Linked DNA regions of Homo sapiens. The protein of the gene in region 1 interacts with the protein of each later gene in a biochemical or structural test. Each region holds a gene or a part of one and is shown on either strand. Other genes may lie near its edges.

Region 1 (3,648 bases):
CAGCAGAACAAAATAGCCAGGGTGGAGCAAGGGGCAGAAATTGGGGAGGATTTCACCTTGGCAGCCAAGAGCCTGGCTGGGGATGGCTGGTGCCCTGGTGGGAGGCTCATCACGGAGAGGGAGCATTTGAGCCAGGTTTTGAAGGATGAATAGAAGTTTGCCAAGCAGGGAAGGGCATTTCAGGCAGAGGGAACGGAATGTGCAAAGGTGTGAGAAGCTGGAGTATTAACGGAAGCACCACTGGGGCATCTGGCTAAGCAGTGGGGGGACAGGGAATTGGGGTGGAGGCTGCAGAGGCTGTTGGGGCCAGAGTATAAAGAGCCTTCACAGGTTTGGGCTTTAACCCACCAGCCAGTGCGGCAAAAGTCATCAATAGGCCGGGTGCAGTGGCTCACACCTGTAATCCCAGCACTCTGGGAGGTTGAGGCGGGTGGATCACTTGAGGTCAGGAGTTTGAGACCAACCTGGCCAACATGGAGAAAACCCCATCTCTACTAAAGATATAAAAGTTAGCCGGGTGTGGTGGCACACGCCTGTAATCTCAGCTGCTCGGGAGGCTGAGTCAGGAGAATTGCTTGAGCCTGGGAGACGGAGGTTGTGGTGAGCTGAGATTGCACCACTGCACTCCAGTCTGGGTGACAGAGTGAGACCCTGTCTCAAAAAAAAAAAAAAGTCATCAATAGCTGCCACCTGAAAAGAGGCTCTCTGGTCCATCAGAGAGTCCCAGTGAACCAGGAGGCAACAAATGCTCTGATAAGTCCGCAGCCAAGGAGCTTTTTAAACCTTCATTTATTTGGGATTCTCCCCATTTCTTGGGAATTAGGAAAGCAAGAGAGAAAGATGATGGGTTAGATGTGGGTTTTTGGAGGAGCCCTGGCTCTGATGTGGAGAAGAAAGAGAGCGATGAGGCAGAGAGCTGGCCAGAAGGAGCCAAGGGGATGCAGGCCAAAAGTACTGCTGCTGTGCCCTGGCCTGGGGACTTGGTGACCAAGCAGAGGGTGAGGAGGAGAGAGCCGAGCAGATGATGGCCAGTGAAGAGCAGGTTTGGGGAGTGGGGCCCAGATGGGGGTTGCTCAGGGCCTGTGGAGACCCTTCATGTGGGTGGCTGAAGATGCTGAGCGACGTCATGCAGGACTGGGGGGAGGAGAGAAGAGGGCATGGGAGAAGGCTCTTAGACGGGGTTGGTTGGCATGCGGCTGAGAACCATGGGGGTTAGTGGGGTCAGAAGGCCTGCATGGATGAAGCAGGGGAGCTGCTGGATGTTGGGAAGCGGGAGGCAGCCAGACCTCAACTCTGGCCTAGTTGGGGGAGGAGTGCCTGGTCTGAGTCCCCAGAAGTAGAGGGAGAGGCATATGCAGAGCCTGCAGAGGGTGGGACTTTGTACACCTGGCATGAGATTAACCAAGCTCTCTTGCCCAGTAGGGGCAAAACAAGGGTTCTAGGGGTACAGCTCAGCTTAGTTCGAGGTCTGTCCCAGGGATGGCTGGGGCCAGCTCCCTTCTCTGCCTGGCTCTGGGTTCCTTTGGAAGCCGGGTGGGGGAAGGGAGGCCTGCCCCTCCCCATGCATCCTCTCAGCTGCTGCATCTTCCCTGTATGCAGGGGTGAGGGAGAGGGGCAAGCCCCAGCCAGCCCCCGTGACCCATTTTGCTTTCCCCTAGCACATGTGCCCTGAGCGGGCTGACCCGCACCTGCCGCCACCGAATCCGGCTCGGGGACTCCAAAAGCCATTACTACATCTCGCCATCTTCCCGGGCCAGGGTGAGTCAGCCTTTGCAAGCGTTACTTGACTCCTTTGGGGCCACCTGGGTGCTGGGACACTGGGCCCTGGGCCTGGGAGTATGAATAGCACTACACCTTGATTTACTTATTTTATTTATTTATTTTTTGAGACAGAGTCTTTGTCACCCAGGCTGGAGTGCAGTGGCACAATCTCAGTTCACTGCAATGTCTGCCTCCCAGGCAGACATTAGCAATTCTCCTGCCTCAGCTTCCCAAGTAGCTGGGATTACAGGCATGTGCCACCACGCCCAGCTAATTTTGTATTTTTAGTAGAGATGGGGTTTCACCACGTTGGCCAGGCTGAACTCGAACTCCTGGCCTTAAGTGATCTGCCTGCCTCGGCCTCCCAAAGTGCTGGGATTATAGGTGTGAGCCACCACGCCCAGCCTTACATCTTGATTTACAGAGCAGGGTACAGGCTCAGAGAGGCGCAGAGACTGACTCGGGCCACACAGCCAAGCCAAGGGCAGTGGTTTGCTATTACGGTGTAACAAATTACTATCAACCTGGTAGCTTAAAATAGCGCAGTTCCCCATGTTGGAGTCTAAGCACTACTTACTTACTGGATTCTCTGCTCAGGGACTTGCAAGGTCGCAGTAAGCTGTCAGCAGACTGTGTTCCTTTCTGGAAGTCAGGGTCCTCCTCAAAACTCACATTGTTGGCAGCATTCAGTTCCTTGTGTTTGAAGGACTGAGGCCCCTATTTTCTTGCTGGCTGCTGGCAAGGGGACACCCTCAGCTTCTAGAGGACACCCGCAGTCCCCTGCCACAGGGCCTTGTTGCACAGGGCAGCTGACTTCAGAGCCATCAGGAGGGCCACTCTCCAGTCGGCTGAGATGCAGCCTTATGTATGAAATGTCATGGGATGACATCGCCCCCCTCTGTCATTCAATGTCACCTAATCCAGGAGTGATGCTAGAGTTCCAGTTAGAGTGCGGGGCTCCTGACGCCCAGACTCAGGTGCTGGCCGAAGCTTTGGAAAAGGTTCAGCGGTGCGTCTGGTGCACCAGCCTTAAGTCGGCCGTGAGTGCCAAGGGGCCTCTAGGAATCCCAGCTCCCACCCTCCCCTGCCGAGTGACCCAGACCAGGACAGGGGTTCTCACCAAGCTGGGGATTGAGGACAGGGATTCCTCTTCCTCTGTCCCTCTGTTGACTCTTAAGAGGATTGAGGGGAACAAGAGAACATGTTTGGAAACACGTTTCCAGTGACACAGCTTGAGGAACCATCTCAGGCCTGCTAGAGGCTCCTCGCAGGGGAGCAGGTCTAAAGGGGACAAATGGTCCCTTTGCTGGCAGCAGACTATACTGTCCTTGATGAACTCCACAAGGCATCCGAGCGTGAGTCCTCCCAGCGGTGTGCTGAGCACCCATTTACCAAAAGGGAGGCTGAGCCTTGGCAGAGGAAAGGGGTGTGTTCAGGGCCACACACCGAGACCTGGGATCCTGGCTCTGAGTCCACTGCAGCCCCTACCCTGTGGATTTGTGCCCACTGAGCCTTGTTCAGTGGCCACTTATCTCCATCACCGCTTTCCAGGCCCAACCATGGCTCAACAGCAGGCCCCACAAAAGATGTTCCCGTGCTCAACAATGTCACCTCTAGCACTTTAAGTCCCTGGCCTGGGTGTCCTGCTGCACTGGATGAAGCTGGGGGTGGGAGATGAGGTGAGGAGGGTCTGAAGTTTTAGGATGTGGTCCCTGCCCTGAAAGACCAAGACATGTGGGGTCCACAGGGAGAAGTGTTTTCTCCCTAGCACACTCCCTGGAGAGGGAAAGCCCCCTCCCTGCTACTCCCTGCTCATGAGCCTCTGTGGGCATCCACTGTCCCTGCTCCTGTCCTGAGCTCTGCCCTGCCCCACCCTCCTGCCGCAGC
Region 2 (3,648 bases), on another chromosome or scaffold:
CGTGAAAATGGCCATACTGCCCAAGGTAATTCATAGATTCAATGCCGTCCCCATCAAGCTACCAATGACTTTCTTCACAGAATTGGAAAAAACTACTTAAGTTCATATGGAACCAAAAAAGAGCCCACATTGCCAAGTCAATCCTAAGCCAAAAGAACAAAGCTGGAGGCATCATGCTACCTGACTTCAAACTATACTACAAGGCTACAGTAACCAAAACAGCATGGTACTGGTGCCAAAACAGAGATATAGACCAATGGAACAGAATAGGGCCCTCAGAAATAATCCCACACATCTACAACCATCTGATCTTTGACAAACCTGACAAAAACAAGAAATGGGGAAATGATTCCCTATTTAAGAAATGGTTCTGGGAAAACTGGCTAGCCATATGTAGAAAGCTGAAACTGGATCCCTTCCTTACACCTTATAAAAAAATTCAAGATGGATTAAAGACTTAAATGTTAGACCTAAAACCATAAAAACCCTAGAAGAAAACCTAGGCAATACCATTCAGGACATAGGCATGGGCAAGGACTTCATGTCTAAAACACCAAAAGCAATGGCAACAAAAGCCAAAATTGACAAATGGGATCTAATTAAACTAAAGCGCTTCTGCAGAGCAAAAGAAACTACCATCAGAGTGAACAGGCAACCTACAGAATGGGAGAAAATTTTTGCAATCTACTCATCTGACAAAGGGCTAATATCAAGTCTGAATACTTTAAACTCACCTATCCACTCCTAATCACAAGAAAACTCTCTTTTCCCTACCCCAGTAATTTCATAAATGCTTTGGGTTAAAAAATGCAAAGTAATATAAAGAAAAATCCTCTAAGGTCTGTGATCCTGTATCATGATATACTCAGCTGATATATACACATCTTACACACCACAAAAAGGAAAAATACAAAACAAAAAAAGTCCCTCTTCCTTCTTTTCCCCAAATGTAACTTACTGATGATTTGTGTGTGTGTGTGTGGGGGGGGGGGGTGTGTGTGTGTCTGTGTGTGTTTTGTGGAGGAAAAAAGGCCAATATATTCACAGACTTAAGATTTTCTAAAATGTCTACAAAAGAGAAAACTTAATTTAGAGACAGGGTCTCGCTCTCACTGTCACCCAGGCTGAAGTGCAGTGATATGAACATGGCTCACTGCAGCTTTGACCTCCTGGGCTCAAGCGATCCTCCCACCTCAACCTCCTGAGTACCCTGGAGCACAGGTGCGTCTCACTATGCCCAGCTAATTTTTTTTTTTTTTTGGTAGAGATGGGGTCTCGCTATGCCCAGGCTGCTCTCCAACTCCTGGGTTCAAGTTTTGTTCTTGCCTCAGCCTCCCAAAGTGCTGGGATTACAGGCATGAGCCACTGTGCTTGGCCAGGATCACTTTATATACCTTGCTCTTTTCACTTATTAATGTATCTTGTAGCACTTTGTAAATCAACACCAACAGCTTCATACTCGTTTAATTTCTGTATAGTGTGGATAATTTAATTACTTTCTTGAGTAGAGTGAATAATCCTGAACTTGGCACTTGGTACTTCTAGAGGTAATCTTGAGTAAATTCCTAACAATGGGCATAGCTGAGTCAAAGAATAAGTGCATTAAAAATTCTGGCAGATATTGCCAAATCACTCTCTAAAAAAACGTGCTATGGCAATTTATACTACCATAAACAGGGTATGGAAGTGTTTGAGAAAGCTTTGGGGTGCTTCCAAAAACCTCAAAGTATTTACTCCAAATTAAGGAAACTGAAAATGTTACAGTACAATTCTCTTTAAACTCTACCTAGGAAGGAGAATGCAATGAAATCTGTTAAAATATGAACTGTGCCAATTTGAAAATTATTTACAATTGTTTCCAGGGTCTCATCAAAACTCTTAAAATAACATCAAACTTTCAAATTGATCCTAGCCATGAGTATTTATTGAGCAACTTCTGTATAAGACTCTGGGAAGAAGAAAATGAATCAGACATGAATGGACCTCAAGGAGAATTAGTTTGAAAGAGGCAGCAAGATAGGAACATAACTAGCAAACAAGAAACAAAGTGTCAGAAACAAGTATGTACTAAAATGCTATGAGAATCTGGAATGAGTAAAAAGGGGGTGCCCAAGCAGGAGAAGCACAAAATGGGGGCCTTAAAGAGAATAAGAATTTGAACCACGTAGAGAACGGACATGGGACGTCTGAAAGAATAGAGGAAATGAGGTGATAATACAAAACAGGTATTGTCAGAGAGGTGACTGAGGAGGTTATATAATAAGTGTGGGGAGCACTGGAGGAGGTTATGGCAGGTGGAGCTGACTGTGTGGGCTGAGTGCTTGACTAAGGCCTAGGTATAATTTTGTTTATCTTCATAGTAATCCCACGAAGTACATGCTTCATGGGGTTCTTGCACCAATTTTACATGTGAGAAAATGGAGGGTAGACACAAAAAATAATTTTCCTATGATTACATGGCCATTAAGGGGTAGAGCCAGGGTTTAAAACTAGGTCAGTGTGACTCCAAAGCCCATGATTTCAACCATCACATCTACTGAAAAGCTAAGAATATCAACCATTACTTATTCTATGGTGGAAAAGGAGAGAATGGATTTGTGAGTTATAAAAAAGTAGGAAAGGCAGACAGGACTGAACTGACTTGGGTGTGAATTTTTAAAATATACAAAATAGTAAATTAGGCCAGGAGTGGTGGCTCACGCCTGTAATCCCAGTACTTTGGGAGGCTGAGGTGGGCTTGAGGTCAGGAGTTCGAGACCAGCCTGGCCAATATGGTGAAACTCCATCTCTACTAAAAATACAAAAATTAGCTGGGCATGGTGGCGCGTGCCTGTAGTCTCAGCTACCTGGGAGGCTGAGGCAGGAGAACTGCCTGAACCTGGGAAGCGGAGGCTATAGTGAGCTGAGATCGTGCCACTGCACTCCAGCCTGGGCACTGCAGCGAGACTCTGTCTCAAAAACAAAAACAAAAAACAAACGAACAAAAGAAAATGGTAAATTAGATTTTAAGATTTTTGAATTATGTAAAATGCATGAATTTCACGTTTTTAAAGTGATGGATGGATATATATACACACATACATATACATATAAACACACTACATATTTCTTCTAGAAGCAGTGTTTTAGTATTTGCTAATTCAATATTTGTAGCAACTTAACAGAGCATAACTACCTCAAATAACAAGAAGTGACTATGTATGTCACTAACATTGACAACACCATTGACAATATCAACTCCTGGAAATACACACATACACAGATGCTCTTCAACTTACGCTGAGGTTATGTCGTGATAAACCCCTTTTAAGTTGATGATATTTTTTTAAGTTGAAAATGCAGTTAATACACCTAACCTGCCAAACATTATAGCTTAGTCTGGCCTACCTTGAATGTGCTTATAATACCTACATTAGCCTACTGTTCCGCAAAATCATCTGACAACACAGTCCACTATAGAGTATTGGTTGTTCACTCTCGTGATTGTGTGGCTGACTGGGAGCTGTGACTCGCTGCCACTGCCTAGCATCACCAGTGTATCATAGCACATATTGCTAGCTCAGACAAAAATCAAAATTCAAAGTATGGTTTTTACCAAATTTGTATTGCTTTTGCACCATCTTAAAGTAAAAAACTTGTATATCAAAT

The links. The genes of interacting proteins can lie anywhere in the genome.
Region 2: of the proteins of RAB3IL1 (region 1) and MAP3K1, one has a biochemical effect on the other in vitro, tested with the Homo sapiens proteins (one large-scale study listed by BioGRID).

What each region holds. Positions count from the first base shown.
Region 1 is NC_000011.10:61,900,552-61,904,199, reverse strand, and holds part of RAB3IL1 (guanine nucleotide exchange factor for Rab-3A), read left to right. Parts: intron 1-1,658; coding exon 1,659-1,758; intron 1,759-3,648. UniProt on the Homo sapiens protein: Guanine nucleotide exchange factor (GEF) which may activate RAB3A, a GTPase that regulates synaptic vesicle exocytosis. Promotes the exchange of GDP to GTP, converting inactive GDP-bound Rab proteins into their active GTP-bound form.
Region 2 is NC_000005.10:56,888,494-56,892,141, reverse strand, and holds part of MAP3K1 (mitogen-activated protein kinase kinase kinase 1), read right to left. Parts: intron 1-3,648. UniProt on the Homo sapiens protein: Component of a protein kinase signal transduction cascade. Activates the ERK and JNK kinase pathways by phosphorylation of MAP2K1 and MAP2K4. May phosphorylate the MAPK8/JNK1 kinase.